Linked DNA regions of Homo sapiens. The protein of the gene in region 1 purifies or fractionates together with the protein of each later gene. This does not show direct contact. Each region holds a gene or a part of one and is shown on either strand. Other genes may lie near its edges.

Evidence for each region. The genes of interacting proteins can lie anywhere in the genome.
Region 2: the proteins of KRT78 (region 1) and QSER1 purify together in Homo sapiens (affinity purification with mass spectrometry; one large-scale study listed by BioGRID and IntAct). This does not show direct contact.

What each region holds. Positions count from the first base shown.
Region 1 is NC_000012.12:52,846,195-52,850,482, forward strand, and holds the start of KRT78 (keratin, type II cytoskeletal 78), read right to left. Parts: upstream 2,801-4,288; 5' UTR 2,737-2,800; coding exon 2,353-2,736; intron 2,090-2,352; exon of another isoform or gene 2,078-2,089; coding exon of another isoform or gene 2,024-2,077; intron 1,928-2,023; coding exon 1,713-1,927; intron 631-1,712; coding exon 570-630; intron 99-569; coding exon 3-98; intron 1-2.
Region 2 is NC_000011.10:32,955,311-32,958,810, reverse strand, and holds part of QSER1 (glutamine and serine-rich protein 1), read right to left. Parts: coding exon 3,399-3,500; intron 2,824-3,398; coding exon 2,690-2,823; intron 2,474-2,689; exon of another isoform or gene 2,357-2,473; intron 2,087-2,356; exon of another isoform or gene 2,045-2,086; intron 943-2,044; coding exon 725-942; intron 1-724. UniProt on the Homo sapiens protein: Plays an essential role in the protection and maintenance of transcriptional and developmental programs.

The DNA of each region.
Region 1 (4,288 bases):
ACTTCTTCATTCAGATGCTTCAAGAAGTAGAGGTACTCTCTCAGAGCCTCCAGCTTGCCCTCCAACTCCATCTTGCTCAGGAAAACCCCATCCACATCCTGGAGACAAGGGGAGAGAGAACACGTAACCCCCTCTTCCTCTTTGGGGTCCCTACTCTGGCTCAGGAATTCTGTTCATGCACTGCTCAACACCCATCCACCATGCCTCCCAAGACCCCCTCCTTCCTCCTCCAGCCCCACTCTGTCCTGCTCTCTCCTTTGCCCAACATTGACCCAACATCACCTTCAGGAAGTCTTCCCTGATTAATCACAACCAGTTCTGCTTCTTCCTCTCCCTCCCCGCCCTCTCCTGCAGTGACATCAAGAGCTCGTCAAGCAGTCCTTTAGTCAGATCTTGCCTTGGGGCCCCTGTGTCTAGGCAGATGTCCCATTTTCCCAGGGGACCCCTGCAGGTAGAGTGATAGCCTGTCCTAAATCAGGACCTCCCACCTTTTCCCTCCCAGCCTAGGACTAGGCTCCGTGCACAGTGGATGCTCAGAACGTAAGTGGAGCACTGGCCCCCACCCTCACCTTCTTGAGGACCACAAAGTCGTTCTCAAGTGTGGCACGCCTGTGGGCCTCCTCCTCATACCTGCCAAATAAGTAGAGAAGGATGCAGTTTGAGGCTCCACGGTCAGAGCTCATGCCCCCATGTCCGAGCATGACCTCCCTGAAAAGGACTCCTTGCCTTAGAATGCCCCCAAACAAGACAATAACCAGCCCTTCTCTCCTTTCCTGCCACGTCCTAGCTATGTACCTGTGCCACCCTTTCAGCCCATGTCCTTTTGATGACGACAGCCACATTGTTTCAGTTTATAAGGCACATTCGAATACCTTTTCCCACTTGCTACTCACACCCATCACTTGAGGTAGGCAGTTTGGGTTTTATCAGAGAGATTAGATGATTTGACCAAGACCCCACAGATGACTAGGTAGACAAAGCAGAGCCAGCCCAGGTCTTCTGACCCCAATCCAGGGCTCCTTCCAGAACCTTCCTTCCTCCACCTCACATCCCATTATCCCAATAGCCCTGGGAGGCCAGAAGGGCAGGTGACATTTCCCAAGTTTACAGAAGGGAAACCAAGTCCGGGAGAGATGAGATGCCTTGCCCAGGATGCACAGCTACCCCTCACTCACAGTTGCCCCAACCCAAGCCCCCTATTAGTCCAGGGCTCTCTCCACTCCACCAGGTGACCTAGGCGTGGAGCCCAGAACCACAGCCCATCTGTGAATTGTGTCACAGGCCTGGGGACAGCCCCACTAAATTGATTCCCTTCCCTCTTTGGAACCAGAGAACATCTGAATCACTTTAGCCCACAGCCCGCTGAACAGGAATTTCTCAAGAATAAAAAAAGCCACTGGGGCATTGTTTAAATAAGCCCTTCCCAGCCTTGACCGGAAACATGGGCCCTTGTAGCTGGGGCATGTAGGACACCGGTCTCCCTGCCTTTCCTCCAAGGTTCTCCAGATCTGCTTGGGGACTGCGGGACACCTCGTTTACCTGTAGCAGGTGGGCACCTGAGAGCCTGGGGAATGGGGACGCGGAGGGGTAGAGGGGAGGCCAGTCATGTGCCTCTGGGTGCTCAGTATGTGGGACACCTCCTGGCTGACAGACCCAAACTGAGTCATCCCAGACCCCGCCCACATGGCATGGGGAAATTTCAGTGTGCCTACTTGGACTTATACTCCTCCTCCTGGTCCCGGCAGGCCTTCAACTCAGCATCCAGAGCCCCTCGTTCTCCCTGGAGCTGCTCCAGCTGCTTCCTGAGCTGATCCAGGCAGGCCTCAAAGACAGGCTCCAGGCCCTGCTGGCTGCCACTCAACCCCTGTTGCTGCAGCAGATGCCACTTCGTCTCCAGGACCTTGTTCTGCTGCTCCAGGAACCGCACCTGCAGCAAAAGCAGAGGATCCCTGAGGCTCCTGTGGGACTCCCTGTGCACAGCCTCTGGAAAGTAAAGCCTGAGGGACCCTCCCATCAGCCTCACCTTTCCCCTGTCCCCCTGCCCAACCTGGGCAGGGGAAGCCTCATGACCTTCCATGACACTCTGAACACAACAAAATGACTGGACTGACTAATGGGGCAGGGCCTTCCCCCCGCTGGCTGGCAGTTCTCTGTCCCTGAGCCCCAATCATGGAACAACAGGGCCTCAGCATAGCCAGAGAGAGTCCAGTTAGTCCACAGGAGGGACTTCTTTGCTGCAGAAGTTATTAGAAAAGTGGTAGAAGGAGGCCAAACTTCCCATTTCCAAGTCCATCAAGAGCAGCTCCTCCAAGGGAGGCACAGAGACAGGGGCTTGGCTGAGTTGACCCTCACCTTGTCAATGAAGGAAGCAAACTGGTTGTTGAGGGTTCTGATCTCCTGGGTCTCCTGCGTCCGCACCACCTGGAACTGGGGATCGATCTCAATCTTCAGTGGGGTCAGCAGATTCTGGTTGATGGTCACTTCTTGGATGCCCCCCGGAGGGCACAGGGAGAGCCCAGGCCCACCACTCCACTCCCCAAACCGCACCCCCAGCCTACCCCCTGACCCCCAGGTACTCCCACGAGAGCCTTCCAGGCACCCCCCAAAGGAATTAAGGCTCCTGCTGCTGAAGCCGCCCCTGCTGCTGAAGCCTCCCCTGCTGCGGCCCCTTGAGCGAGCAGAACAGGCTGAGCGAGCGCTGAAGCCCCTCTGGGCCCGGCATGGGGAGAGAGACATGGCAGAGACAGACAGTCACGCAGCTGCAGACGGACAGACAGATTGTCAAGGTGTGTGAGTTTCTGCCCTGGGGCCCCAGCACGAGACTTTTATCCACTCCCGTACCTGGGCTGGGCCTTGGAGAGCAAGATACTCTTGACCTGACTGTGTCTGTCACTTGGCTCCAGCTGACTTACTCTGACGTGCCTGGAGAATAAGTGTCCGGCACGTGCAGAGCCAAGGGAGAAGGAAACCCAGACCCTGCCCTCAGAGCTCCCAGGCTGTTGGAGAAATAGGCATGCCCAAAGACAAGGAAGCAGGCAGGAGACTGGGATGTCAGTGCTGAGGGACAGGGAGGGATGGCCGGAGCAAAGTCACTGAGGCCCTCAGGGAAGGCTTCCTGAAGGAGACAGGGAAGCGAGAGGAGGTTGAAGAGGAAAGAACGCTAGAAGGGGTTCAGAGGAAGCATCAGAGTGCCCTGGATTCTCAAGGGAGAATCTGCCTCAAGGAGTTGGAGAAGGAAGGCACTTGCAGCGCCACAAAGAGAGGAGGTTAGTGGAGGTGTTATTGCCATAGTTGGCTAAAAGACACTCCAGGATTTGGAAATGAAACAGAAAAACAGGGTTTCCAAGTCCTTCCTCTTGCCCAACCCAGCAATCATCCATGAGGCACCACCCACTGAAATCAGGCATCTCCATCCAGGATCGCATGGGACAGCACGTTTCTGACCCAGCCTGTGGCTCTGCTCCTTCCACAAGCACTTGGGGCCAGGCCCATCCACCTGCCATCAGGCTCCGCTTCCTGAGGTTACAAATCAGAGCCACCCAGGCTCTGAAATGAAATGTGCATTTAGGGCCGGGCACAGTGGCTCACGCCTGTAATCCCAGCACTTTGGAAGACCGAGGTGGGTGGGTCACTGGAGGTCAGGAGTTTGAGACCAGCCTGACCAACATGGTGAAACCCCATCTCTACTAAAAATACAAAAATTGGCCAGGTGTGATGGTGCACACCTGTAATCCCAGCTACATATGAGGCTGAGGCAGGAGAATTGCTTGAACCCAGGAGGCAGAGGTTGAGCAGTGAGCCAAGATCGTACCACTGCACTCCAGCCTGGGCAACAGAGTGAGACTCCATCTCAAAAAAAAAAGCAAGGTGCATTTAGAAAATACTCCTAAGCTGGGAACGGTGGCTCACGCTTGTAATCCCAGCACTTTGGGAGGCCTAGGCGGGTGGATCACGAAGTCAGGAGATCGAGACCATCCTGGCTAACACGGTAAAACCCCGTCTCTTAAAAATACAAAAAATTAGCCAGGCGTGGTGGCAGGCACCTGTAATCCCAGCTAATCGGGAGGATGAGGCAGGAAAATCGCTTGATCCCAGAAGGTGGAGGCTGCAGTGAGCTGAGATCATGCCACTGCACTCCAGCCTGGGTGATAGAGCGAGACTCTGTCTCAAAAAAAAAAAGAAAAGAAAAGAAAAATACTCCTGATGGACTGGGAGCAGAAACAGGACATTTGGGGTTCCCCACAGGACAGCCTCTGCCTCTGGCCTGAAAGTCTGGTGGGTGAAGGAG
Region 2 (3,500 bases), on another chromosome or scaffold:
AAGCATTTATTAAATAATGTAGTGGCATACGTTATTAAATATATTACTATATTATAATTTGAGTGCCCCTTTCCTAGGCTTAGTTATTCTTTTCTTCTAGCATAAACTTAGACTCAAATGTTTATGCTAGGTGGGGCGCAGTGGCTCATGCCCGTAATCCCAGCACTTTGGGAGGCTAAGGCAGGAGGACTGCTTAAGCCCAGGAGTTTGAGACCATCCTGGGTGACAAAGCAAGAGCCCATATCTTAAAAAGAAACATTAGCTGGGCATGGTGGTGCACACCTATAGTCCCAGCTACTTTGGAGGCTGAGGTAGGAGAGTTACGAGCCCAGGTGTTCGAGGCTGCAGTGAGCTAGGATCATGCCATTGCACTTCAGCCTGGGCGACAGAATGAAACCTTGTCTCAAAAAAAAAAAAAGTTTAGAACTAGATGATTCTTAGTAATCATCTGATCTAACCTCCATCTTATCCAGAGTTGAGATAACTGGCATTACTAAGGTAAGTTCTGCCTTTTCTATTTACAAGGCTGCATGTGTGGGCCAACTGTGCTTCAGTTGGTATGTTCAGGGAATGTGAACTTACTTTCATAAAAACCTAAACAGAATTTATTAGGTAGATAAATTCCCTGAAAAGTAAATACATTTTGAATTGTCAGCATCCTGCTCCTCACCACTCATGTAGATAATCTAAAGTTATCAGGGTAGCCATTTCACGGAAAACTCACCCTCATCGTCACTACTACTAGTATGGATCTCAGGAGATGAGTCAGATTGGGATGATGAAAATTCTTCTTTCCATTTTTTCCGTTTCTTTGGTGGTGGCTCAGCCTTTACTTTTGGCTGTTTAACTTTGGGTTTCACGGAAGGGGCTTTTGTAGTTGTAGTTTTTGATGCTAGAGGATCAGAAGTTTTACTGCTACTACTTGGCTTAGCTTGAACAGTTCTGCAATGTTATAAACAAACTTCATTAACACACTGAAATCTTGTTAAACTAAAATAAAATAGAAAAATAAAAGAGAATCACAGGAGAAGATTATCTAATTACTCTCACCAATACCTTCAAAATATACAGTCCAAGTCCTATATACATCTCAATGGTGATTCCCATAAAATTTTCTTAAAATACATTCTTTTCACCAGAAGCATTCAATATTCAGTTATTAAGGGACTTTTAGTTCAGTCCTTATTTCTACTTCTTCATTGCCCTCCTTGATTTATGGACTTATTTCCCAGAGACTATGAGGCTGTACAACAGATGATCAGTGGGCTTAGGAAGGTAATGAATGTTATAACCGTAATTGCCATATCTAGCTCTGACCCTAAGAAACTCTCACAGGCTCTGGTGGTGTCAGGTTTTGATGTAGAAACCCAAATGCGGCGCGGTGGCTCATGCCTGTAATCCTAGCACTTTGGGAGGCTGAGGTGGGTGGATCACTTGAGGTCAGGAGTTCAAGACCAGCCTGGCCAACATAGTGAAACCCCATCTCTACTAAAAATACAAAACCAGCTGGGAGTGGTGGCGGGCGCCTGTAGTCCCAGCTACTCGGGAGGCTGAGGCAGGAGAATCGCTTGAACCCGGGAGGTGGAGGTTGCAGTGAGCCAAGATCACGCCGCTGCACTCCAGCCTGGGCGACAGAGCAAGACTCTATCTCAAAAAAAAGAAAAAAAAAAAAAAAAGAAAAAAAAAGAAAAAAAAGAAAAACCCAAATGCATCTGTCCTAGAGTCCCTCGAGATTTGCTGTATGCCAGCTGGGTATGGTGGCTCATGCCTGTAATCCCAGCATTTTGGGAGGCTGAGGCAGGCAAATTGCTTGAGCCCAAGAGTTCAAGACCAGCCTGAGCAACATGGTAAAATCCCATCCCTATAAAAATTAGCTGGGCACAGTGGTGCACACCTGTAGTCCCAGCTACTTGGGAAGTTGAGGCAGGAGGATCACCTGAGCCTGGGAGGTCGAGGCTGCAGTGCCGTGATCATGCCACTACACTGCAGCCTTAGTGACAGGGTGAGACCCTGTCTCAAATAAAAAAGATTTGCTCTCTTCCAGGTCTGAAGATTTGAGTGGATAAAATTCCATCATAAAAATAAGGTAAGCTGCTTCCAGTAGGTGGGAATGTTAATGAAACTGGACCTACTTGGCACTGGAGTAAGAACATCTACGGTCATACCTGCTTCTCATGCAGACCACAGGGTCAAGTCAGTTATCTTCCAGATTCATGCTCCAGACAACCCAGAGTCACATTAATACACAATAATAATTCTACTGTGTACACTTGTACAGTAATGTAGTTCTTATAGTTTTTTTATCAATAATTATTTTAAATTTAATTTACTTCATTATATTATTTACATTTTATAGATGAAAAAGGGAGCTTCAGGAAAGCTGTCTTCTCTAAGTCACATAAAGCTGGACTCAAACTTTTTGCCTCTACAATTTTTTTTCACAATACTGGGATGACACCAAAAGGACTTAGGGAAAAGAAAAGGGCACCCACCCACCACAGATAGCCATGAGCTTTACAGTGCCCATCTCATGCCTTCAAAAGAATCACTTATTTCATCAGGCACTGAAATTTTTTGACTTGTGTATAATAAAAAAAATCTATTTAATTGATATGCTCCTTTGTACATTGGTATCATCAATAATACACCTATATATATGCACAAATATATCACCTAAGAAAACAAATACCTGATAGTTTGTGAAGGTTTATTTCTTGGCTTTTTAGAACACACTCTGACATATTCCTTCTTGTTTGCATTTTCAATGAACTTCACATATATTCTTTTGTATTTACTCTTTGCATCTCCAAAATATCCAAGATACTGAGGAAGGAAACACTTTGAGTTACATAATTGAACAATCTAGATACAAATGCTACTTTGTTTGTTCAATTGACTATCCCATAGCCAACCTTCAAGTTTTCTAAAATGCAGCTCTGGCCAGGCTAATTTTACCCTCAAAAACTGATCCCAGGCTCATTATTGATTTCATATGTACAAGCAATCTCATTTGGCATATTCTTACTTCCAGCTACATTAAGTATGACAGAATAACTTCCATCAGTCTTCTGGTAAATCAGGATATTTGACTAGTAGAATAATCAATATAAAGGAGCCTCTGAGTCAATCTGAACTCTTCATAGGCTAACATTAATCCCTTTCCTTTATTAAAAAAAAAAGTTAAACAATAGTACAAGGTCATTTAATTTTAAATAGCTGATATTTAACAAATGACTTTATTTTTATATTAGACTATCAAAGAGCATCAATATTCTAGTTCAAATTATATGCTACTTTATATCAAAAATATTCAATATAAAATACTTCTATATTTAAATCATTGTTTTTCTCAGGACCACTGTCAAAATAAGGCTAATGTAAACATGCATTTTACTTACACTATTTGTAGCAGCAAATTCTCTTTGACCATCTCGAATTTCAGGAACAAATTTCTGTAATAAAGCTTTTTGTACTTTCCAAATAGCTGGAGGTTCTTTTCC